Linked DNA regions of Homo sapiens: all the other regions are linked to region 2. The links come from fine-mapping of genetic effects on gene expression. A gene starts in region 2. Each other region holds a variant in brackets. All regions are shown on one strand. Distances are between the middles of the regions.

Region 1 (8,182 bases), 99 kb after region 2:
TTTATAAAAGTTTTAACGTGTGCTATTCTTGAGGGAAATACTGATGCATATCTAAACTTTAGGGGTGTTTTTCACCCTGGCTACAGACACTCGGTAAATAATTTTTCAGGTGATGGGAAAACACATCATCATGAGAATGTAGCAACTTTTATTTTGCAGTAACTGTTAAAATTGTGGCCACAGTGCTCAGTAAAAGGGGACCTTCCCCCTGTAGGTGTTTGGGGAGGAGTGACGTCCTGTCCTCCATTTTGTTAGTAACCCACTTATGGATGGGGCATTATCACCTAGAAAGAAAAGAGATACCATGGTATGCAGTTACAGGGAGCCAGAGCAAGAGCAAGACAAAGAAATTCCCTTACGTCTTCAATGCAGAGCCGGCATTTAGACCTCTACCCCAGGCAGGACCCACAAATCTTTGGCAGCCATGAGCACCTGTTTTGCTCCTGCCTTCTTCCTGTTGGCAATTTTGGGTTTTGGGGTTTTTTTTTTTTAGACAGAGTCTCACTCCATCACCAGGCTGGAAGTACAGTGGTGCAGTCTCGGCCCACTGCAGCCTCCGCCTTCCGGGTTCAAATGATCCTCTTGCTTCAGCCTCCCAATTAGCTGGGACTACAGGTGCGCACCACCACGGCCAGCTAATTTTTGTATTTTTAGTAGAGATGGGGTTTCACCATATTGCCCAGGCTGGTCTCAAACTCCTGACCTCAAGTGATCTGCTCACCTCAGCCTTTCAAAGTGCTGGGATTATATATATATTTTAAATAAATGAATAGAATTCATCACCTAACTTCTAAAGCTACCTCTGTAGATGAAATTCCGGCACTTAGGAGTCAGCAGTGGTGTATTGAGTGCATAGCCCTTGCTCACAGGTGCTTCTTTCCTGTCCCATGGCAGGTGGCACCAACAGAAGGTTTCTGCAAGGCTGAGAGCTCCTTTTACCCATGGACCAGGAGCAAAGTTTGCAGGTACACTGTCAGGCTGTGTTTGGATGTTAGCAGTTAATTTAGCTCTGCGTCTTCAGAGCAATTATTCTTAGCTACTTAAAAAAAAAAAAAGGAAAAAAATGACACCCATAAAGCATTTGCTGCTCCATAGGATGGGAGCACACTCTGTTGTTGGGCATATGAGTCCCTCTGGCATGTGTTTTCTATGTTTATTGTTGTCAGGGCTGTCCCTGTAATTTCCCAGAAGTAGAACTCCCTGAAGCTGTTTCCCAGAAAGGACAGGGGTGTAGATAATGGATGTCCAGAGACAGAGAACACTGCAGTGCCAGATCCCTGTGCTGCTTTGTCAGACATTTGTTTATATATTGTTTGTTTTTGAGATGGGGTCTCACTATGTTGCCCAGGCTGATCTTGAACTCCTGAGCTCTCAAGTGATCCTCCCACCTCGGCCTCCTAAAGTGCTGGGATTACAGGCATGAGCCACTGTGTCCAGCTGTTATTATTATTATTATTTTGAGACAGAGTTTTGCTCTTGTTGCCTAGGCTGGCGTGCAATGGCACATCCTCGGCTCACTGCAACCTCCGCCTCCTGGGTTCAAGCAATTCTCCTGCCTCAGCCTCCCGAGTAGCTGGGATTACAAACGCCCACCACCATGCCCAGCTAATTTTTGTATTTTTAGTAGAGACGGGGTTTCACCATGTTGGCCAGGCTGGTTTCGAACTCCTAACTTTAGGTGATCTGCCCACCTCGGCCTCTCAAAGTGCTGGGGTTACAGGCATGAGCCACCGTACCTGGCCCCAGCTGTTATTATTTTTAATTGATACCTAATACTTGATATCTAATACATATTTTATTGATACCTAATACATATTTACAGGGTACACTGGGATATTTTGATACATGTTTACAATGTATAAGGATCAAATCAGGGTAATTAGCATATCCATCACCTCAAACATTTATCATTTTTTTGTGTTGGGACATTCAAAATCTGCTGTTCTAGCTATTTGAAAATATACAATAAGTTGTTGTTAATTATAGTCACCCTATAGTGCTTTAGAGCACTAGCACTTATTCCCCCTATCTAGCTGTACTTTTATTAACATTAAACAACCTTTAGGCTGTGTGCGGTGGCTCATGCCTGTAAACCCAGCACTTTGGGAGGCCGAGGTGGACTGATCACCTGAGGTCAGGAGTTCAAGACCAGCCTGGACAACATAGCAAGAACCATCTTAAAAAAGAAAAGAGAAGAATATTTAAAATTTTCTTCACTGATCATTCAGGAGCATATTGTTTAATTTCTGTGTATTTGTACAATTTCAAAAGTTCACCTCGCTGTTGAGTTCTAGTTTTATTCCACTGTGGTCAGGAAAGATACTCGATATAATTTCAATTATTTTAAATTTGTTGAGACTTGTTTTGTGGGCTAACATATGGTCTATTCTGGAAAATGTTTCTTGTGCTGATGAAATAATGTGTTTTCTGAATCTGTTGGATGAAATGTTCTGTAAATGTCTCTTTGTTAGTCTAAAATGCAGGGTTTTTTGTTTTTTTGAGAGAGTCTCACTCTGTTGCCCAGGCTGGGAGTGCAGTAGCATGATCTTGACTCACTGCAACCTCCACTTCCCAGGTTCAAGCAATTCTCGTGCCTCAGCCTGCCAAGTAGCTGGGATTACAGGTGCCCGCCACCACACCCAGCTAATTTTTGTATTTTTAGTAGAGACAGGGTTTTACCATGTTGACCAGGCTGGTTTTAAACTCCTGGCCTCAAGTGATCCGCCCACCTCAGCCTCCCAACGTACTAGGATAACAGATGTGAACCACCGCGCTCAGCCTAAAGTGCAGTTTAAATCTAGTGTTTTGTTGTTGATTTTCTGTCTAGATGATCTGTTCAGTGCAGAGAATGGGGTGTTGAATTCCCCAGCTATTGTATTGGTGTCTATGTCTCCCTTTAGATCTAATAATATTTGCTTTATATTATGTATCTGGGCGCTCCAGTGTTGGGTGCATATATATTTAGAATTGTTACCTCCTCTTACTGAATTGATCCCTTTATCATTATATAATAACCTTTTTCTTTTTTTTAATCGTTTTTTACTTGACGTCTGTTTCATCTGATACAAGTACAGCTACCCTGCTTGCTTTTGGTTTCTGTTTGCATGGAATATCTTTTTCCACCCTTTCAGTCTATGTGTGTCGTTACAGATGAAGTGAGTTTCTTGTAGGCAACCGTAGTTGGGCCATGTTTTTTAATCCATTCAGCCAGTCTATATATTTTAAGGGGGGAAGTTTAATAAGTTTACATTCAAGATTATTATTGATAGGTGAGGACTTCTGTCATTTTGTTAATTATTTTCTGTTTTTTTAAATATATCCTTTGTTCCTTTCTTCCCCTCTTATTGTTCATCCTTGTGATTGGTGGTTTTCTGTAGTGGTAAAATTTGATTCTTTTCTCTTTCTCCTTTGTGTATGTGCTCTACCAGTGAGTTTTCTACTTTTTTGTGTTTTCTTGATAGTAATTATCATTTCACTTCCAGATGTGGGACTCCCTTGAGCATTTCTTATAAGGCTGGTCTAGTGGTGATGAATTCTGTCAGTTTTTATTTGTCTGAGACATGTCAGGCATTTAGCTTCAGGACCTGATTCTAGTTCCCTGCCCTGTGGCAACAAGTAGAAACAGATCCCTGGTACCCTGCTTAAGTATTACACCAGCTAGATGTGAGCAGATGAGAAAATCAAATCCTTCTATTTTGCCAGGGATTAATTCATTCTCAGGATTGTAAATATTACATTTCACCTTTCACCTCACAGAACTGTAGAATTAGGAGGTGAGCTGGGCAGCCTGCCCAGCAAGACATTATGATGTATACAATACAGTGCACTACTAAGGATGTGTCTTTAAAGGCATTTACAGCACACAGTTTTTTTTTTCCTTATAATTTTGCTGCTCTTTATTTGTAGTAGTAGATAAGGAATTAAGAAAGCAAAAATGAGTGCTTTGACTAGGTCTTTTGCCTTTGAAAGTAGCATTAGTAAAATCCCCTCTTCTTTTTTATTCTTATAAAATTTACCCAATTCACTCTGTCCCCCAGCCCATCTGTGTTCACTTGCTGTTCTTGCTGCTCTCAGTTTTTAAAAGCTTATTCTAAAATTACAT[C/G]AAAGCAACCCCATTTTGACAAAATTAGAATTCTGGTAGGAAACGCTTGCCATGAGGCTGTGGAGAGAGGCCCAGCAAGACTTTTGTATTTTATTTCAACCTCTGTCGGTTAAACCTACAATTCGGCAGATGATATAATTACCTCCCTGGGGCAGGTCTCTATCTCTGCCTTGGAGAAATAGCAAAGTCCAAAGTAGTCTCCTCATTCAAAGATGTTGCAAACGAAGGCTGTTTTGATCTTTATGTATTAGCATTTGGGTGTTAATCTTTCTGGAGCTCCTGACAGAAAATTCCTTTAAATTTATTATATAATTCTAAAATATTGGACATATTTGTTTCAAGCATCTGTCAGTATCCTTACTCTTTCCATTTCACTCCCCACTGCCTTAATTAGTCATCAGGTCCTACTGATTTTTAACTCCTAAGCATTTCTCAAATCTGTCTCCTCAGTATGTATTGTTGGTTATATAACTCCATCTCCATTTTCACTGTGCTGCTTTAGACTATCTTTTCTTGTCTAGATTAGTGCCTGGCTTATATTATGGGCTTCATAAAGTGGGATCAATGAATGAATGATTCATAATCTGGACAACTGCACTCTAACACCTAACTGGAAAAAAAAAAATCTTAAGATCTATCTTCCATGTAAAAGCATCTATCTAAAATGCAAATCTTACTTTGATAATCTCCAGGTTAATAAACCTCTTAGACGGCTCTCAGGCCTCCCCAAAACCATCTCTCATTTCACTGATCAAAAAAATAAAAATTTAAAAATTTTAAAACTTAAAAAAAAAATTGAACATTTCACTGGTCAAAAAACAAAAACAAAAATGATCTCCGAGCATGCCTCCCTCACACCCCACCCTGCTGTGCATCCCTTTCCCACCCCCAGCCTACAGAGACCACCCAATAACCTCTTCTTTGCTACATGACCCTTACCCTCCTTCTTCAAGAGTCATACTTTCTCCTTAGAAACTTTTCCCCCCACTTTCTGGAAACTGTAGATTCTTTCTTGCTTATGGTTTTTGTAATGACATCAGCCATTTAGAATTCATGATGTGGCCAGTCTCTGCTATCTGCCTCTCCACAGAGCTTGCTCAGATAATCCATCAGGATTTAGTCACAGATCCAAAGTAGGGAGCTAGAAGGGAGCTTCAGGCTTGGTCTCTTCGGGTTGAAGCTAGAAAACTAATCTATACTGAACACAAAAATGAAGCTGAGTAATAGCCAACCTATACATCCTAGGAATTAACTATTGCTTATTTTGCCCCCAGCCAGTCTCTCCACACTCCTCTCTCCTTTACATTTGTTTTAAACACTATATATATATATACACTTTATTTATATATATATACTTTTTATATATATATATATATAATATGTGTAATTTTTTTTTTAATTAGCTGGGCATGGTGGGGTGTGCCTGTGATCCTAGCTACTCAGGAGGCTGGGAGGCTGAGGTGGGATGATATGTGGGATTTTATATATATATATATATATATATATATATATATATATATTTTTTTTTTTTTTTTTTTTTTTTTTTTTTTTGAGACAGAGTTTTGCTCTTGTTGCCCAGGCTGGATTGCAATGGTGCGATCTCAGCTCACCGCAACCTCTGCCTCCCAGGTTCAAGCGATTCTCCTGCCTCAGCCTCCCAAGTAGGTGGGATTACAGGTATGCACCACCATGCCTGGCTAATTTTGTATTTTTAGTAGAGACAGGTTTCTTCATGTTGGTCAGGCTGGTCTCTAATTCCCGACCTCAGGTGATCCACCCACCTTGGCCTCTCAAAATGCTGGGATTACAAGCGTGAGCCACCGCACCCAGCCTTAAACACGGTATATTAGCCCAACACTGTGTGAGAACTGGGATTCAGAAAACCAAGATATAGGTCTCCGTTCTGCCATCCACTAGCTATGCTATGAGTCAGCCATGAAAATTCTCTGGGCCTCATTGACTGAATCTGTAAAATCTGACTTGATGAGGATTATATTCATTGAACTCTGAGGTCCTGTCCATTTCTTACACCCTGATTCAAAGACCGCACAGAATCTCTAACCCAGATATTCTTAACTAGGGTTCTTGTATGTCTGGGAAGATGATGAAAGAACTTCAAGGGGATCATGAGCTCTTTAAATTCTATATAAAATCCAAGGCTGGGCGTGGTGGCTCACGCTTGTAATCCCAGCACTTTGGGAGGCTGAGGTGGGCAGATTGCCTGAGATCAGGAGTTCGAGACCAGCCTGGGCAACATGTTGAAACCCCCTCTCTGTGAAAATACAAAAACAATCAGCTGGGTGTGGTGGCATGTGCCTATAGTCCCGGCTACTCAGGAGGCTGAGGCACAAGAATTGCTTTGAACCCAGGAGGCAGAGGTTGCAGTAAGCCAAGATCGTGCCACTGTGCTCCAACCTGGGAGACAGGGAGAAACGCTGTCTCAAAAAATAAATGAATAAATAAATAAATAAATAAAATAAAATAAAATAAAATAAATTCTATGTAAAATCCTTTGTGAACTTGCTGCATCACCTTGGCCCACAAAGGGGGTTTTCTTATCTTTTTTCCTCTTTCAAAGTAATGATAGTCTATGGTTGCCCTACTATGTATTCTCTTTTTATTATTTTATTATTTTTTTTTTTAGAGACAGGGTCTCACTCTGTTATCCAGGCTGGAGTGCAGTGGTGCAATTATAGCTCACTGCAGCCTTGGCCTCCTGGGCTCACGCGGTCATCCCACCTCAGCCTCCTGCATAGCTAGGATCACAGGCATGCCCCCATCATGCTCAGCTAATTTAAAAAATATTTTTTTTGAGGCTGGGCACAGTGGTTCATGCCTTTAATCCCAGAACTTTGAGAGGCTAAGGCGGGAGGATTGATTGGGTCCAGGAGTTCAAGAACCTGAGAAATACAGAGAGACCCCATTTTTACTACAAAAAAATAGAATCAAAAAATTAGCCAGGCCCAGTGGCATTCACCTGTAGTCCCAGCTACTTATGAGGCTGAGGCAGAGGATTGCTTGAACCCAGGGGTTCAAGGCAAATTGAGCTATGATTGGGCACTGCACTTAGCTTTGGTGACACGGCAAGACTCTGTCTCCATTAAAAAAAAAAAAAGTAAGGCTACAGATAAGAAAGTACTTGGACAACAGTAAAAAAGTTAAACTCATGACATTGGACCCTATGAAATGTGTTTACCCTAGAGCTGTTTATTGTATGATAGGTCCCTGCTAGATAGTATTCAAGGTTTAATGCAAAAACTCCAAGGACCTCTCTTGGTAGCAGTGGTATTCTTTAAGACGGCACATTACTGAATCCTTCCTGTAAAATGGTCACAAGATCATTTTTATGAGCCTCTAGAATAACTCCTGAAGCTACTCATGCTCCCTACTGGAAAACACATTACTGTTACAAGATTGGCAAACATGAACCAGCATGGTAGAAATCTGGCAGGAAGAAAGCTCAAAATTTAGCACTTGGCCAGGCGATGTGTAATTCCTGTGAAAATTGCAGGCTAACAGTCAGTGAATTTGTCAGAAGGGGAATTATTTGCTAGAGCTCTGACCACCACCCTTGGAGAGTTGATGGTTCACATCTACCCTTCCTCCAGCCCAGGTCTGGACAAGGGCTGCCTCTAGTTCATTCCTGGTGCATAGCCATCCTTAGTGGTCACTACATTCTGAAGGGGCTTAGTGGGACTGTGGGCCTTGGGCAACGGACCTGATGTTAACTCAAGTAAGTTCCCAGAGCAGATTTGTATTCAGTTCAGCTAACATTTATAGAGCACCTACTGATTGCTACATGCTGCCTGAGAGATAAAGAGGATGGAACACTGTCTCTGCCCTTGAGAAGCTCAGAGGGATGGGGAGAACCTAATGTGGTCAGAGCAGTTGTAGAGATAATGCCTGTGGGACTGAAGGAGTGTAGAAGCCAGGGTAGAAAGAGGATTCTCAAGATTGTCCTGAGCTGTGAGAAGCCTCTCAGTGTCTGTGAGGATCTAGCCACAAGGAGAGTGAGAGTACCAAAGCACAGAATGCAGGAGTGGTGATGACTGTTAAGCCAATAAGCCAAAGAGACAGTTG
Region 2 (8,162 bases):
TATGATGTAGAACCAGATTTTTAGATATGTAACATTTTTTCACTATTATAGCCCCATCACCTGACATATGGTAGAAGCTCAATTATTGTGTTTTAAATGAGGCTAGAGATCACTGAGTTCCAGAGAGGTTAAGTGAAAAAGTTTGTAAGCAGAGCCAATACACTTGCCTTGATTGTGCTACTGGCTCTATGAACAGCTCTTTTCACCGTAACATACTAACATGAAGAAACAGTCTAAAACCAAAAGATGGTAAAACCTACTACTTTTCATTTCTTTCCCCAAACTAGGCCTAAAAATCCTCACTCTACTAGAACAGCTTCGCTGGAGGAGACACAAGACACTACTGCTATGCAAGCCTCAGGCTCTGGCACTTACCTCTGGGGCACACATCCTTTAACTACTTTATTTCCATGAAGTAGTTACTACACAGTCTTCTAAACTTCTCCTGTGAGAGCTAAGTGACCTCATCCCATCTCCCAACCCATATGCATCTAACAGATCACAGTAATATTGCTATCATTAGTAATTTACATTGTGCAAGTATAACAGAATAGTGTATCCTGAATTCAAACTGGATTTTCAATGTGCTGTATAATCCTTTGTTTGGAAATCCTAGGAGCAACAATTTTATCTTGGCATTTTGCCATCTTTCACGTCTATTTACTAAAAGTTGAGAAACAAATTTTCACTTCATCAGCAAACCACTTAATAATCTTTGATTTGCCTGTTTATTCACTAGCAGAAAACAGAAAAACTTTAAAATCTCCAAAATAAATTAGCACTCCATCCCAATTCCTCAAGTGGTTTTCCCAAGTGAAGCCTTAATATTTCCAAGTCAAGCTGCCTTCTTAAAAGAAGATACAGAAACTTAATATGATCTTGAAGGTCATGCCTATTAAATTTAAGAACACTACTCCACAAGAAAAAAGTAACTGTATAATATGTGGCAGGAACCTCTATAATCAAGCCTTATTCAACAATGCAGCTCAGTGAATGTGAAAAACCCTAGGAGTTTTTTGCTCTATTAAAAAAAGGTACCAGAAGACACAAATTTGAAGGGTGTTTTATTTCTCATATCCAAAGTATTAACTCTTCTCTCATTTCTCTTTGTACCTTCAACATAATGATCACTCACAATTATCCATTCATTTCTAAGTTAAGAGCCTTTGTAGAACCACTATGTTTTTCTTAAATACTCACTTTCCTCTTTAAATGTAGTCAATATATTATCAAAGCACTCAAGGTTAATCATAAAAAACCAAGCAATGTAAATCTTCAAAGGCTTACTTTGCACTTTACAAACTTCCAACTAGAGTTGAAAAGAATGCCATCATTGTACCTAACCTGCATTTACTTTAACAGTCTGACCACAAAGGTATTTCTTCTCTGGGCTGAAGGACCACTGAAGTTGTGCAAAACCCTTTTCGGTTACAATGAATTACCAAACATGTGAACGAAGAAGCACAAGACAGTAAACTTCTATCCGGGGAACGTCTATCCTAATAATAGAATTTTATTATGTACAGGTTTCCATAGTTGCCATGATTTCAAAATAGTACCAAAAATTACATGAAAAATATTTAAAAACAAGATAAACAAGGCTTCATTAGATTTCATAGTACAATGATGGTTTTACTGTTAAATGAAAACAATTCACCCTTTCCTAGGAAACATATCAGCAGTAAGATAAACAAAAAAATTAAAATTTATACCTCAATCTGCTTATATCAGTTCCCGCCGGGGTAACTTAAAAGCAGCATTAGCATTACGTTAATCACTTAACTATAGCTTCGGTTAAAAAAGGCATGTGTTTCAACCTTCATATTTTACAGACTAAGAGAACTCAGAGTAGTAAACTGACTTTCTCAGACTCACACAAATTGTATGCTAAGACCAGGTGCGGTGGCTCACGGCTGTAATCCCAGCACTTTGGGAGGCCAACTCAGGTGGATCTCTTGAGCCCAGGAGTTAAGAGACTAGCTTTGGCAATATGGTGAAACCCCTTCTCTACAAAACACAGAAAAAAAAAATTGGCCCGGCGTGGTGATGCAGGCTTCCAGTCCCAGCAACCCGGGAGGCTGAGGTAGGAGGATCGCTTGAGACAGGGAGATCAAGGCTGCAGTGAGCCGTGATCACGAGCTGCTGCACTCCAGAGCTGCTGCACTCCAGCCCCGGGCCATAGAGTGAGATCCTCTCAAAAAAAAAAAAAAATTGTATGCTAAGCCTAGACTCTTGACCACCCCCAAGCCCTACTCAGTGCCATTTCCACCGCTCCACACATTTCGCTTTGGATACATTAATTATATGTTATTTTCTTCCCAACATCCAAAATAATACTATTGATTTAATGCTTTATCTGTTTTCAAAAACAAATTTTTATAATCTGATTTAAGTATCTTTCCAAAATGCCTGAAGACATTTCATGATGCTGCACAAAAACCCAAGCAAGATTTCTAGCAACGAGGTACACTGATCGAATACATCGAAATATCAGTTATAATATTCCTGTTTCCAATTTCCACAACAGAGTTGGCTTTGAACTGAAACTTCCTAAGAAAAAACCATTTCCTTTATTCACACTTCCAAGTTACATTTTGAATATTTCAAATAGCTCGGCACAAAAATCTAAAGTAATAGCTAACACCGTAACAAGACTGAGAGAAAAAGTTCCTTTTTTAAATGTGTTGCAAAGTTTGCTCTCACATCCTGGTAACTGGAAACTGCAACGCTGGGTGACTGACCAGCCTTTTTTTTTATTATTTAAAAATTCAAACGGCTATAAAGGGCTTCTAATGTGCGTCTTATTTTTAAAAGGTAAGGTAAAAACCCTTTTAACCTAATAGTAGGATATATGTGTACAGTTTCGTAATTCTGTTAAAGTTTGCAGAATTAATCACAATTCATGTGTTAAATGTTTAAATAACATCTAAGTCATTAAAACCGCTTAAGTGCACCAAAAAAGGGCAATAACGTTTGCTCCGCTTTGTTTCCTTAAAGTCTCCATCCAACTGAAGCTAACTACTTGCTGTGGACAAAATGATCACATTCCTTCTGCCTCCCCCTAACATTTCTGGTAAGAGAAAGACCTGGCTCTAGGAATGTGTGTTTAATGCAACCCTGAGCTCACTTCATCCTTTCATGGGGCAAATGTGGAATAAATTACCAATGAAAAACTTTAGTAATTTTAAGATTTGTTTTACTTGAAGGTAGGGGTGTACCAACAGCTGCCAACACTTCTGTTGAAGTGTTGTAACCGAAGAGGTAAAAAGTGTACTGAGTAATCCACAAAATTGGGTAGAGCAAAGGATGCACGCCATGCTTATAAAGAGTTTAATTTTAAAATTTTTTAAATTAAACCTTCAAGGGAACTAGCATGTGAACGCCAAGGCATAATCTGTTATTTAATTACGGGTCTCCATAGGACCGAGGCGGAGAGAGCTCCCGGTAGAACCGACGCAACCATCCCGGGATGGTGACCAACGCGCGGCTGCTGCGGGCAGAGGGACTGAAGAGAACCGGTGGTCCCGACGCTGGCCCCGAGCCCGAGGAGTTAAACTAACAAAGAGCTCCCCGAGCCGCGAAACCCCCCAGAGCGGAAGCGACGCCTCCCCGCCGCCGCCGCCGCGCCGCGACCCTCCCCAAGTTCAGGGCCCGGCAGTGGACTCGCTGCGGGGCCTGCGGCCAGGACGGCGCCGGGTTCGCAGTCGGGATGCGGGAAACAGGTAGAGGCCAGAATACGAGCCCCAAAGAGAAGAGTGGGCGCTTCCCCAAACGGGTCGGCGCAGCGGAAAAGGCTAACTGAAGCAAGCGGGAGGCCCCGCACCGAGGCCCTGCTTCCCGGGGAGCAGCCAGGCACAGCGGACAGGGGGGCCGCGCTTTGTTACCGGCTGAGAGAAGCTCCGGCCGCCGCCGCCGCCATCGCCCCCGCCCCGGGGCGTCGCTTCCCGGCGGTTCTCGCCTTCCTCGGCCGAGTAGTCGATCTCCCCCTCCTCGGTCTTGAGACGCTTGGCCTGGCTCTCGTACTCCCGGTCCTCCTCGTACGTCTCCCTGGGGGAGGAAGAGGAGGAGGACATGGCGGCGGCCGGAGGGACCGGCTGGCAGGCGGGTGGGGGTGGCGGTGGGGCGCGCGCCTCGGATGCCGCCGGCCAGTCCTCGCCGCCGGCAGCGCCTCTTCTGCGAGGGTCTCCGCGGCCCGGCCGTCCGCGGGGACTGCGCGGCCAGGAGACTGGCGGCTGAGAAGCGCGGACGGACTGAGGGGGGCGCCCCGGGAGGAAGCTCTGGAGCGGCCGCTCCTCTCAATTACCGAGCCAACATTCAGCCTCTCCCTCCTCCTCCTCCGTCTCCGCTCCCTGCCCGGAGGAGCGAATCTAAGGATGGGGACGCAACCGTGGCTTCCGGTCTTCCCTCCTCCCCTAAGCCGCTCCCAGCCGCGCAGGCCGAGCCTCCGCCCCCGCCTTCGCGGCCGTCGCGCAGGATCGAATCCAGCCGCAGCCTGCGGGAAGCGCCCCCCCCGGCCCGGGTTCTGCTCCCTATTGGCAGGGGCGGGAAAGTCGACCGGGCTTCCCATTGGCTGTGAGGGCCGTTCGTCAAAAGCCGCCCGCTGCTCGACCTCACTTCTCTCCCCGCGCCTTCTGAACTCGCCGCGGTCCTGGGAGGCCCGGCGCGCAAGGCGCGCCGCCTGGGAGTAGTTGCGACCCGCAACCGTTGGCGCTATGCGGCTCCTACCCGAGGCCAGGCGTGGAGTGAACACGGACGAGCGACGAGAAGTGCGGAGAGGCTAGGGCTGCGGGTGTTAACCGCCCTGCCGCTAATTTAAATGCTTTTTATCACCTCTTAAAAAGAGAATGAGGAAAAAAACCTCTAAAATCCCTGCAGTCATACCCCCCGAAAAGCCCTAAAATTGCAGGCGATGAAGGGAGAAAACGGCTTGGAGCCATGAGAATGGTCTTTCCACTGTTTTGTGTGCAAAATCTGGTAGAAGTGGGCGGACCCTCCCGCCCCTAGCTGGGTGTTGGAGAACAGCTGTCAGCATTGACTGAAGGCTGCGAGGCGCGCGTCGGCAGGAGGCGCTGCACGCGGGCGCTCGTCGGTCTGATCGGTTATAACTCGTTTGTAACCTGGGCCCTTTACTGACTTGCCTGTCCCTGTAAGTCCCTGCTCCAGTTAAATATGTTTTAATCCTTCCATATAAAATCTCATCCTCCATCCCAATTCTTTCTCTTCTGGACAATGTATTTACTTCACTTGATCATTTATTGTCGAAAGATACAAAAGCCTTTCAAAGTTCTGTGATCACAGCTTGCTTCCTCTGTGGTGTCCTGAGGGCTTTTCCAAGATTTTAGTTGCTGCTCTCTTTTTGCAACAGGGCCCCTTATAACTCCCTCTTAAGATGTTCTGTTTTAAAAACTCTGTGAGCGCCTGAAGACAGGAACTGTGTGCAATTTTCATTTTCGCAAGCCCAGTTCCTGTGCGATCTCCAGCACAATTTAGGTGCTCAACAATGCTGAATGAGTAGTCCTTGGGAAATAAAGGTCCAGTGTATCTTTCAGGACAGAAACTGGCAAATCAAGGCAACCTAACTGCCCTCTGTCAGGTGCCTCTTGGAGGACTGCCTGAGATCAAGAGCCTCTTGTGTTTCTGTTGTCCTTGTCCCTCGGATGCTTTCCTAGATGTGGCTCTTCCTTTCCTAAGAGTGTAGATTGCTTCCTCCTCCAGCCTAGTTCTCTCCAAAGTTATTTCCTCCTCCAAAAAAGCTATTTTTATTTATTGCTGAGAGTGCTTTAACATAACACTTTTGTACTTTGTAAATTACACCGGCTGTCATTTTGGAATCTAATTGCAAGATTTTCCACACTATGCAGCTATAATCAAATGTGTGTGCGGCTGCAGGTATACATTGACAAAACAGAACTAAAAAAATTATAAATTTATTTTTTAAATTAAAATGGAAGTCGACAGAAGAAATAGCAAAAGAGTGGCAGAGCTGGCTGCGGATGAGAAAATGTCATTGGCAAAAAGCTCTGCAATGGTTTGGGAAAGTAAAATAGCAACAAGGGAAACAATGATACAATTCTGCTTAAAATATGTCCTATGGATTCATATGTCCCCTAACATATTCAGAATGCAGACATTACCTGGCCTTCAGAAAGCTGAAGATACCAAGGGTCAAAAAAAAGGTCTAACAAACCTACTTCACGTGTTATCTTTAGCATCCATTGTCCTTTTTATAGCAGTCTCAGTATCAAAGATCAGGAAAGGATGAGTGAATTAATAAACTTGATACAAAGGAAACTTCTTTGATGAGGTGAGATGGGCCATTCTCAAGATATTTTTAGTTTGCTCAAATTAAAAGAGAAGAGCTGAGAGCTTAAAACAATTATTTTTTAGGAGAAAGAAAACAATAGAATATTATGTGAAATAATTGAGTGTGATGAGAAGCACTAAATATCTTTTTGTTAAGTATGAGCAACTACCTGTTAATTTTGTTTTATGTACATTTTCATATGCTAGGTGAATTTAGTTTGGTAAATTCTATTCACTCACAACTGGATTTACTAGGCCTTATACAAACTTTCCAAATATTTCTTGTGAAGATGCAAATATTTTAAATTCTCAAAGCCCTGCATTCAACCTATGGATTATACCACATTACAATGCAACTGTCACACCAATGGGTAAGGAAATCCAGCCTTGCCAAACCTAGGGCTGCTGTGCTCAGCGTTCACAAACAGCAGGTGGAATTCAATATGTACCAGTATTAAACTTTGTTCTTTTTGTAAGTAGCCCAGTTGAGTAAAAAAAAAAATATTGAGGGAGTAAAACTTAGAAAGCATTTTTAAAGGACACCAATCAGTTCGTTAACCATGGGTGAAATGCGAGCTTGTTGCAGATGAGTTGTTCAGACAGTGACAGTAGGTCCTTTGATAAGGAAAATACTAGCTAGCTCATCACCAGGGCATGAGGAGCTAAAGAGAGAGGACATAAATTATACTCTACATTATTTCACTTAGGTGAGACAAAGAAATTACACACTGCCCAGTAGCCAGAAATACCTAAGAAAAGCAGAAACAGCTCCTAAATGCCATGACTGTCTGGAACCTCTCATGCATTACGGCCTCAGACCTTTGACTATTTTCTGAACATTTGATTGAATTCGCTGCTGTCAAGTAGGCAGCAGCCAAGAGCTCCCATTGCCACAGCTCAAAGGGGACTCCAGCTATACTGGAGTAGGAGACAGGCTTAGGGCAGGCCTAGGGAAATTGAGAGTCAAGGGCCTTTATAATCAATCCAGCCTCAAATTGCCCTTTAGTTTTAAATCTCGTTACTGATCTATAAAATTTATAAGACATTGTGCTAGGTGATGAGAGGACTACGTGAGCTGGTCCCTGCCCTCTCAAAGCTTGCAATCAAGTTGTGGAAACAAGGCTCATACCCAAGAGATAGGCTACAAGCATCCATATGTAATAATACATATACAATAATTAATAGCCACATTTAATGTGCCAGTCACTGTGCTAACCACTGAAAGGGTTTTGTCAATAAATTCTGACAGAAGCCTTCTACCAGAGGCATTATTATTACTCTTCCCAGTATACAATTAAAGAAACAGTCTAGGGGAGATTAAGAAACCTGCCTTAGGCTGGGCACAGAGGGAGGCAGAGGCACACAGATCACTTGAGCCCAGGAGTTTGAGACCAGCCTAGGCAACGTGGCAAGACCCTGTTTCCACAAAAATTGTAAAAATTAGCCTGGAATGGTGGTGCGTGCCTGTAATCCCAGCCACTCAGGAGGATGAGGTGGGAGGATTGCCTGAGCCCAGGGAGGTCCAGGCTACAGTGAGCCGTGACTGCACCACTACACTCTAGCCTGGGTGTTGGAGTGAAACCCTGTTTCAAAAAAAAGAAAAGAAAAAAAAGGAAACCTGCCCTAGAGCTGCAGTTAATAAATTGAAAAGCCAGGACTGGAACCCAAGCAATCGGGTTCCAGAGCCAGTACTCGTCATCAGAAGACTGATGATTTAATTATTGTGTTATTTATTACCATGGACATACAGATCTAATTTATAGTCACTTATTATATAATGATGCTAATTCATTCACTGATTTCTCCTTTTTATTTATTTCTTTATTTGAGACAGGATCTCACTCTGCTGCCCAGGCTGT
Region 3 (8,182 bases), 130 kb after region 2:
TGATTCTCAAATAAAACATTGAGAGATTCATCTCTATATTTTATTTGACTTTGACAAATCCTGTAATTATGTCATAATATGATGAACGTTTTGAGAAAAGTCTATTCTAAGTATAATGAGAACAAAGAAAAAAAAGATTGGTCCTGGCTATAGAGGTTAGAATATTTCACAAGAAGAAATTATGTTAGAGAATATTCTTGAACGATCAATTGGACTTTGCCAGACTGTGGTGGGCATAGGGGACCCAGAAGGAACATTCATTCTAGTTATGAGAAAGGGCCCAGAGACATGGCGAATCTGGGGGACAAATTCCACATTTTCCATATACTTGATCATTAAGCACATGACCAAGTGTGTCAGTGCATGAGGATGGACAAGATAGATTGGAGCCTTCACTGTTTTTTTCTTCTCATTTACCAAAAATTTCATCATTTTAGAATTGTCCCAGTTTTCTAATTTTAAGTCAGGGCTTCTTTGTCATGCTTAAAGTCTTACCCTCTGTGCCCTCTGCTCTGTGTTCTATATGGTAGCCTGAAATTTGGCCCTGTTATATATATTTATTTATGCCAGACTCCTGAAGGTGTTCAAGCATACCATTTATCAAATATTTCCATGTAATGTGGCAGCTAATAACAGCTTCGTTTTACAGAGGGAAGAGCTGAAGCAAACACTGATTTGTAGATTGCTTGGTAACAGGAAAGAGACCTGATGTATGCCCTCTGTCTTTCCTTCACAAAAATTTTGTAGCTTTCTTTGTTTCTTCAAGCCTTCTACCTGTAGTTATACTTTAAGGGAGATAATTATAAGCAATTTTGATTGACCTGAGTCGATCACACTAGGACTGTCATAAGGGTTAGATTTTGAGTTGACTGTGGCTTTAAGGAAGAATTAAATATTGTAACACCATTTAAAGTTATAGAAGAAAGCATAAGTTACCACTCAGAATATAGGTTGGTAAGACTAAAATCTTCCTGAGCCCATGAGAATACCTGCTTTTTTTTCCAAGTCTAATTGTTTCATGAAGAATTGCTGAGCATGGTGGCTCATGCTTGTAAACCCAGTACTTTGGGAGGCTGAGGCAGGAGGATTGCTTGAGCCCAGGAGTTTGAAACCAGCCTGCGCAACAAAGTGAGACCCCCATCTCTTCAAATAATTTAAAAATTAGCCAGGGGTGCTGGTACATGCCTGGGGTCCCAGCTACTCAGGAAGCTGAGACAGGAGGATTACCTGAGCCTGGCAGGTCGAGGCTGCATTGAGCTGTGATCATGCCACTGCACTACAGCCTGGGTAACAGAACGAGACCCTCGCTCTTAAACACACACATACACACACACACACACGTATATATATAATTGGGCATACACCTGTAGTCCTAGCTACTCAGGAGGCTGAGGCAGGAGGATCACTTGAGCATAGCAGGACCCTGTCTTTAAAAAAGAAAAAGAAGAATTATTGTTGCCTTTTTCTTTTCATTTCTTTTCTTTTTTTTGTTTTGTTTTGTTTTGTTTTTTTGAGACAGAGTCTCACTCTGTCTGGAGTGCAGTGGTGAAATCTTGGCTCACCACAACCTCCATCTCCCGGGTTCAAGCGATTCTTGTGCCTCAGTCTACTGAGTAGCTGATATTACAGGTATGCGCCACCACGCCTGGCTAATTTTTGTATTTTTAGTAGAGACGGGGTTTCGCCATGTTGCCCAGGCTGGTCTCAAACTCCTGACCTCAAGTGATCCGCCCACCTCAGCCTCCCAAACCTCTGGGATTACAGGCATGAGCCACCATGCAAGTCTGGGAGGTAGTATATCATGTAAACATTGCAGGACAAAAGCATACCCAAGTGGGTCACACTGCTATCTAGGATTTGGCCTTTGGCTTTCAAGATCCAAAAAGTTCAACTATGAATTCTGCCAGAACTGATCAGGGTTTAGAGGATGTAAAGCAACCTCTTTCTATTGTGTCTCTAGCACCATCTACTGGGAAACAAAAGTGCCTTTATTTTTTTTTTTTTATTTTTTTTTTTTTTGAGACGGAGTCTCGCTCTGTCGCCCAGGCTGGAGTGCAGTGGCGGGATCTCGGCTCACTGCAAGCTCCGCCTCCCGGGTTCACGCCATTCTCCTGCCTCAGCCTCCCAAGTAGCTGGGACTACAGGCGCCCGCCACTACGCCCGGCTAATTTTTTGTATTTTTAGTAGAGACGGGTTTTCACCGTTTTAGCCGGGATGGTCTCGATCTCCTGACCTCGTGATCCGCCCGCCTCGGCCTGCCAACGTGCTGGGATTACAGGCATGAGCCACCCCGCCTGGCCAAGTCTCTCACATTTAATCCCAACACAATGCTGTATACAAACCAAGTGACTCAGAATAAGAATGCAAAAGTAAACCAGACAAATGCAAGCCGAAGTAGTCTCGGCCGGGCTCAGTGGCTCCTGCCTATAATCCCAGCACTTTGGGAGGCCGAGATGGGCAGATCACCTGAGACCAGCTTGGCCAAAACGGTGAAAGCCCATCTCTACTAAAAATACAACAATTAGCTGGGTGTGGTGGCAGGCACCTGTAATCCCAGCTACTTGGGAGGCTGAGGCAGAAGAATCGCTTGAACCTGGGAGGCCAAGGTTGTGGTGAGCCGAGATCACGCCACTGCACTCCAGCCTGGGCAACAAGAGCAAAACTCTGTCTTAAAAAAAAATTGGTTGCATGTGCAAATATTCCCTATTTAAAAATTTGGCCAGATCACACCTGTAATCCCAGCACTTTGGGAGGCCAAGGTGGGTGGGTCACTTGAGGTCAGAAGTTTGAGACCAGCCTGGCCAACATGTTGAAACCCCGTCTCTACAAAAAATACAAAAATTGGCTGGGCATGGTGGTGTGCCCCTGTAATCCCATCTGTTTGGGAGGCTGAGGCGGGAGAATCACTTGAACCCAGGAGGCAGAGATTGCAGTGAGCCAAGGTTGAGCCACTGCACTCCAGCTTGGGCGACAGAGTGAGACTCCGTCTCAAGAAAAAAAAAAAAAAAAAGAGCAAGGAATCCTTTGTGCACTTCCCAGATTCTCTCGGTTAAACAGTGGACACCCACACACCAGGATGGTATCGCCTGGACCTCAGTGTCTCACTTGAGTGCTTCGTACCTAGGCATCCTGAGGCTGTATGTGAACTCAGAACTCCAGTCTTCAGGCACTAGGAAGACTACATTTCTGAACAGCAGTTCTGAGTTTAAGAAAAGAAATGGGGCCGGGTGCAGTGGTTCACGCCTGTAATCCCAGCCCTTTGGGAGGCCAAGGCAGGTGGTTCACGAGGTCAGGAGTTCGAGACCACTCTGGCCAATATGGTGAAACCCCGTCTCTACTAAAAATACAAAAATTAGCTGGGCATGATGGTGCGTGCCTGTAGTCCCAGCTCCTCGGGAGGCTGAGGCAGGAGAATCACTTGAACCAGGAGGCAGAGGTTGCAGTGAGCCTAGACTGGCCATTGCACTCCAGCCCAGGCAACAGAGGGAGACTACGTCTCAAAAAAAAAAAAAAAAGAAAAAGGAAAAATAAATGAAATGTCCTCTTTTACTCAGATAGATTTGTGTGTTCTCTCAGCATTTAGGAACCCACAAAAGCAGAACCAAATGTTTTAAATGACTGGCAATTGGTTCTTCTTTTACTTTTTAAATTATTTTAATGGTAAGGTACAAGTTCCTGCTTTTTCTTAGCCTCCTAAGATTTCAGCCCTACTTTGCATGCTACTTCTCTCCCCTGATTACAGTGGAAGCCAAGTTCCTAAAATTGCCATTTGACCACATGAAAGGGAAAAATAATTATCACCCTAAAAGAGTATGTTAACCTCCTAACATTTGCATTTACCTTTAAAATATATGAGACAGCTCTGGGACTATAAGAAAACTTTTTAGGCCAGGAGTGGTGGCTCACACCTGTAATCCCAGCACTTTGGGAGGCCAAGGCAGGTGGACCACCTGAGGTCAGGAGTTGGAGACTAGCCTGGCCAACATGGTGAAACCCCATCTCTACTAAAAATACAAAAATTAGCTGGGCGTGGTGGTGTGTGCCTGTAATCCCAGCTACTTGGGAGGCTGAGGTGGGAGAATCACTTGAACCTGGGAGGCAGAGGTGGCAGTGAGCTGAGATTGTGCCATTGCACTCCAGCCTGGGCGACGAGCAAAACTCTGTCTCAAAAAAAAAAAACTTTTTTTTTGGCTGGGTGCAGTGGCTCACGCCTATAATACTAGCACTTTGGGAGGCCGAGGTGGGCAGATCACCTGTCAGGAGTTCACGACCAGCCTGGCCAACATGGTGAAACCCCGTCTCTACTAAAAATACAAAAGCATGGTGGTGTGCACCTGTAATCCCAGCTACTCATGAGGCTGAGACAGAAGAATCACTTGAACCCAGGAGGCGGAGGTTGCACTGAGCTGAGATCGCGCCACTGCGCTCCAGCCTGGGTGACAGAGCAAGACTCCATCTCAAAAAACAAAACAAAACAAAACAAAACAAAAACTCAACCGTAACATTGTTTAAGCCTCTGAAACAGAGCCCTTTTCTTTTCCTCTTCAAGAAAAAATGGCTGGAGTGATTTGGCCTGCTACAGAGGAAACTGGTATTCTCTGTACTTGGTACAAGGTTCTAGCACCTGGCTGTTACTACTCCTGGGTG[G/T]GCCATAATTTTAAGAGGAAGTGGACCTCTGCCATCATCTTATCCTGGGGTTTTCCACCTGCGCTGCTCAGAACCTGTACTTGATTCAGCTAGAACAACTCTGGCTTTTATGTATATGTTACTATATATTTATGAGTATATATTTTCCATTGTCCCTTGGAATCCATGGAGGATTGGTTCCAGGACCCCCTACTGATACTTAAATCATTAGATACTCTAGTTCCTTCTATAAAATGGTGCAGTATTTGCATATAACCTGAGCCCATACTCCCATATACTCTATTTATTTGAGGGTTTTTTTTTTCTCTTCCCCACCCTCTCCATATTTGTTTTTTAAGACAGTCTCATTCTGTTACCTATGCTGGAGTGCAGTGGTGCAATCATGGTTCACTGTAGCCTCGACCTCCTGGGCTCAAGCAATCCTCCTGCCTCAGCCTCCTGAGTAGCTGAGACCACAGGGACACATCACTATGCCTGGCTAATTTTTTACATTTATTTATTTATTTATTTTATTATTTTGGTAGAGATGGGGTCTCTGCATGTTTCCCAGGATCTGGGCTCCCATCTCCTTAACAAATTAAAATGAAGGCGGAGAGAGTAGAACCAGTGAGCCTTTGTGGAGGCTCTATATAAAGATGAGACTTGGGCATTTATCACCTTTGTTTTCTGTCTCTTCCCATCAGGAGAAGTTGCCCCAGTGCAAGGCACTGCATTCGACCTGAGAAAGCCAGTGGAGCTTGGAAAACACCTGCAGGACTTCCATCTCAATGGTTTTGACCACAATTTCTGTCTGAAGGGATCTAAAGAAAAGCATTTTTGTGCAAGGTCAGGTACTTTTCACTTCCTGAGTCTGTAAGGAAGAAATGACACCAAGTCCTATTTTCCTTTGGAGCTTTTCCTCTGGCCATATCAATAGCATTTACTATGCTACAAGTGACCCAATACCACATCCCATATTTTCTCAAAGCTCCCATGGCACAGGTGAGCTCTGTAGAATTTATCCCAGTCCCCCACCTGCCATTACCCCTATTCCCCCTGCTTGGCACCCGCTCTCTCCCTCTCTGCCTGTTCTTTAAGGCCCATTTTCTGTTAGAAGCCTTAACTCTTCCTAGTGAAGTCACCTCGGCTGTCACTGAACTTCCAGAGCCTTTGTGCTTTCTCGATCTGTGACTTATGCCTGCCTACTCCATGGCCAGTTGGAGGCTAGGCATCTCCTGCAGCACTCACCGCCTCCAGCCTTGACCGATAGACACTTGTGTGCACGCTCTCGCCTTCTCACCAAATCCCAGTTCCTCATGCCATTTCATCTTTGTGAAGCCCTACCTCTACCCCAACACCTAATATCATCCTTGGCACTAGCAAATAATGAATAAATGTTTGCAGAATTAACAGTTTTGTGTGTGTGCGTGTGTGTGACGGAGTCTTGCTCTGTCGCCCAGACTGGAATGCAGTGGTGCGATCTAGGTTTACTGCAACCTCCGCCTCCCGGGTTCAAGTGATTCTCCTGCCTCAGCCTCCTGAGTAGCTGGGATAACAGGCACGTGCCACTATGCCCAGCTAATTTTTGTATTTTTAGTAGAGATGGGGTTTCACAATGTTGGTCAGGCTGGTCTTGAACTCCTGACCTTGTAATCCACCCACCTCGGCCTCCCAAAGTGCTGGGATTACAGGTGTAAGCCACTGCACCCGGTCAACAGTTTTTAAATAAAGCAGAAAAAATGACTCAAACCAAATAGTGACAGAAAGAAGATCAAAGACCTTCTCCGGGCTGGGCGTGGTGGCTCATGCCTGTAATCCCAGCACTTTAGGTGGCTGAGGTGGGCAGATCACTTGAGGTCAGGAGTTTGAGACCAGCCTCGCCAACATGGTGAAACGCCGTCTCTACTAAAAATATAAAAATTAGCCAGGCATGGTGGTGGGCACCTATAATCTCAGCTACTCAGGAGGCTGAGGCAGGAGAATCACTTGAACCCAGGGGGTGGAAGTTGTAGTGAGCCGAGATCACGCCACTGCACTCCAGGCTAGGCAACAGAGCAAAACTCCATCTCAAAAAAAAAAAAAGAATCTCAGGCCAGGTGCAGTGGCTCTCATGCCTGTAATCCCAGCACTTTTGGAGGCTGAGGTGGTCAGATCACCTGAGGTCAGTAGTTCAAGACCAGTTGGGCCAACATGATGAAACCCCGACAATACTAAAAGTACAAAAAATTAGCCGGATGTGGTGGCAGGTACCTGTAATCCCAGCTACTCTAGAGGCTGAGGCAGGAGAATTGCTTTAACCAAGGGGGCGGAGGTTGCAGTGAGCCAAGATCGCACCACTGCACTCCTCCCTGGGTGACAGAGCCAGACTCCATCTCAAAACAAACAAACAAACAAAAATTAGCTGGACATGGTAGTGCGCACCTGCAGTCCCAGCTACTGGGGAGCTGAAGTGGGAGAATTGCTTGAGCCCGGGAGGCTGAGGTTGCAGTGAGCCGAGGTCGCGCCACTGCACTCCAGCCTGGGCAATAGAGAAAGACTCTATTTCAAAAAAAAAAAAAAAAAAAAAAAGAATCTCAGCCTCTCCAGGACCTTCCTCTCTCCAACCTGGCTGCTGCCTTCCTCCCTACTCCCCAGCTGGCAGGAGTGAGTCTGTTTTGTGATGCCCCAAAGAAGCTACTGAGGATCCTGAAAGCCACCTGCTCATGCCTTGCCTTTGAGACTGGAAGAATTTTCCATCATGCTCTTCCTACCTTCATCTCCTCCTTATATCTTGTCCCTGCTCTGTGGCTGGGTCTGATTCCTGTCTCAAAGCCGCTTCCCAGCTTCTACTCCTCCCCACCTGCTTTTCTGCCCTGGACTCATGTTGTTTGTATTTCTTACCAGGGTGCATCATGCTGCAAGCGGGCGGGTACTAGAAGTATACACCACCCAGCCCGGGGTCCAGTTTTACACGGGCAACTTCCTGGATGGCACATTAAAGGGCAAGAATGGAGCTGTCTATCCCAAGCACTCCGGTTTCTGCCTGGAGACTCAGAACTGGCCTGATGCAGTCAATCAGGTAATGCCACAGGCTGGCTTTTCAGAGTAGAGTTGTGTCCAAGGTCACACTGTACGACAGAGTTCACTACACTCGAATCAGCTTGTATGATTCAAAAGTTCATGCTTTGTTTGTTTGGTTTGTTTTTTGAGACAGAGTCTCACTCTTGTCGCCTAGGCTGTAGTGCAGTGGCACGATCTCAGCTCACTGCAACCTCCGCCTCCTGGGCACGATCTCAGCTCACTGCAACCTCCGCCTCCTGGGTCCAAGCGATTCTCCTGCCCCAGCCTTCCAAGTAGCTAGGATTACAGGCGCCTACCACCATGCCTGCTTAATTTTTGTATTTTTAGTAGAGACAGGGTTCCACCATGTTGGCCAGGCTGGTCTCAAAACCCCTGACCTCAGGTGATCCACCTGCCTTGGCCTCCCAAAGTGCTAGGATTATAGGCGTGAGCCACTGTGCCCGGCTCAAAAGTTCATGCTTATTCTCTTCTGCAAGTCACAGAAAACCCATAGCCA

Alleles and levels. Positions count from the first base shown, and alleles are read on the strand shown. Sizes are in standard deviations (SD) of each study's normalised expression. Not every link is listed here.
For the expression in sigmoid colon of the gene that starts at base 4,375 in region 2, allele G in region 3 goes with a lower level than allele T (moderate effect, 0.71 SD a copy in GTEx).

Evidence for each region. PIP is the estimated chance that this variant, and not a neighbour inherited with it, causes the effect.
Region 1: its variant is fine-mapped to the expression of HNRNPLL in whole blood (TOPMed, PIP 0.98).
Region 3: its variant is fine-mapped to the expression of HNRNPLL in sigmoid colon (GTEx, PIP above 0.99).

What each region holds. Positions count from the first base shown.
Region 1 is chr2:38,697,472-38,705,653 of GRCh38, forward strand. The region is part of intron 4 of GALM (galactose mutarotase); the gene reads left to right. The region is part of intron 1 of LOC124905993 (a long non-coding RNA gene); the gene reads right to left. Among named protein-coding and RNA genes, the nearest start is that of GALM, 35 kb to the left of the region's middle. The variant C/G (reference allele first, on the strand shown) is at 4,103.
Region 2 is chr2:38,598,554-38,606,715 of GRCh38, forward strand. It overlaps HNRNPLL (heterogeneous nuclear ribonucleoprotein L like), which reads right to left and starts at 4,375. Exons shown (of 13, transcript NM_138394.4): 1 at 3,885-4,375. The coding sequence starts at 4,073. RefSeq lists silencers at 4,095-4,194, 4,215-4,264, 4,485-4,554.
Region 3 is chr2:38,724,226-38,732,407 of GRCh38, forward strand. GALM (galactose mutarotase) reads left to right here. Exons shown (of 7, transcript NM_138801.3): 5 at 5,331-5,472; 6 at 7,510-7,684. All of the region lies in intron 1 of LOC124905993 (a long non-coding RNA gene), which reads right to left. Among named protein-coding and RNA genes, the nearest start is that of SRSF7, 23 kb to the right of the region's middle. The variant G/T (reference allele first, on the strand shown) is at 4,648.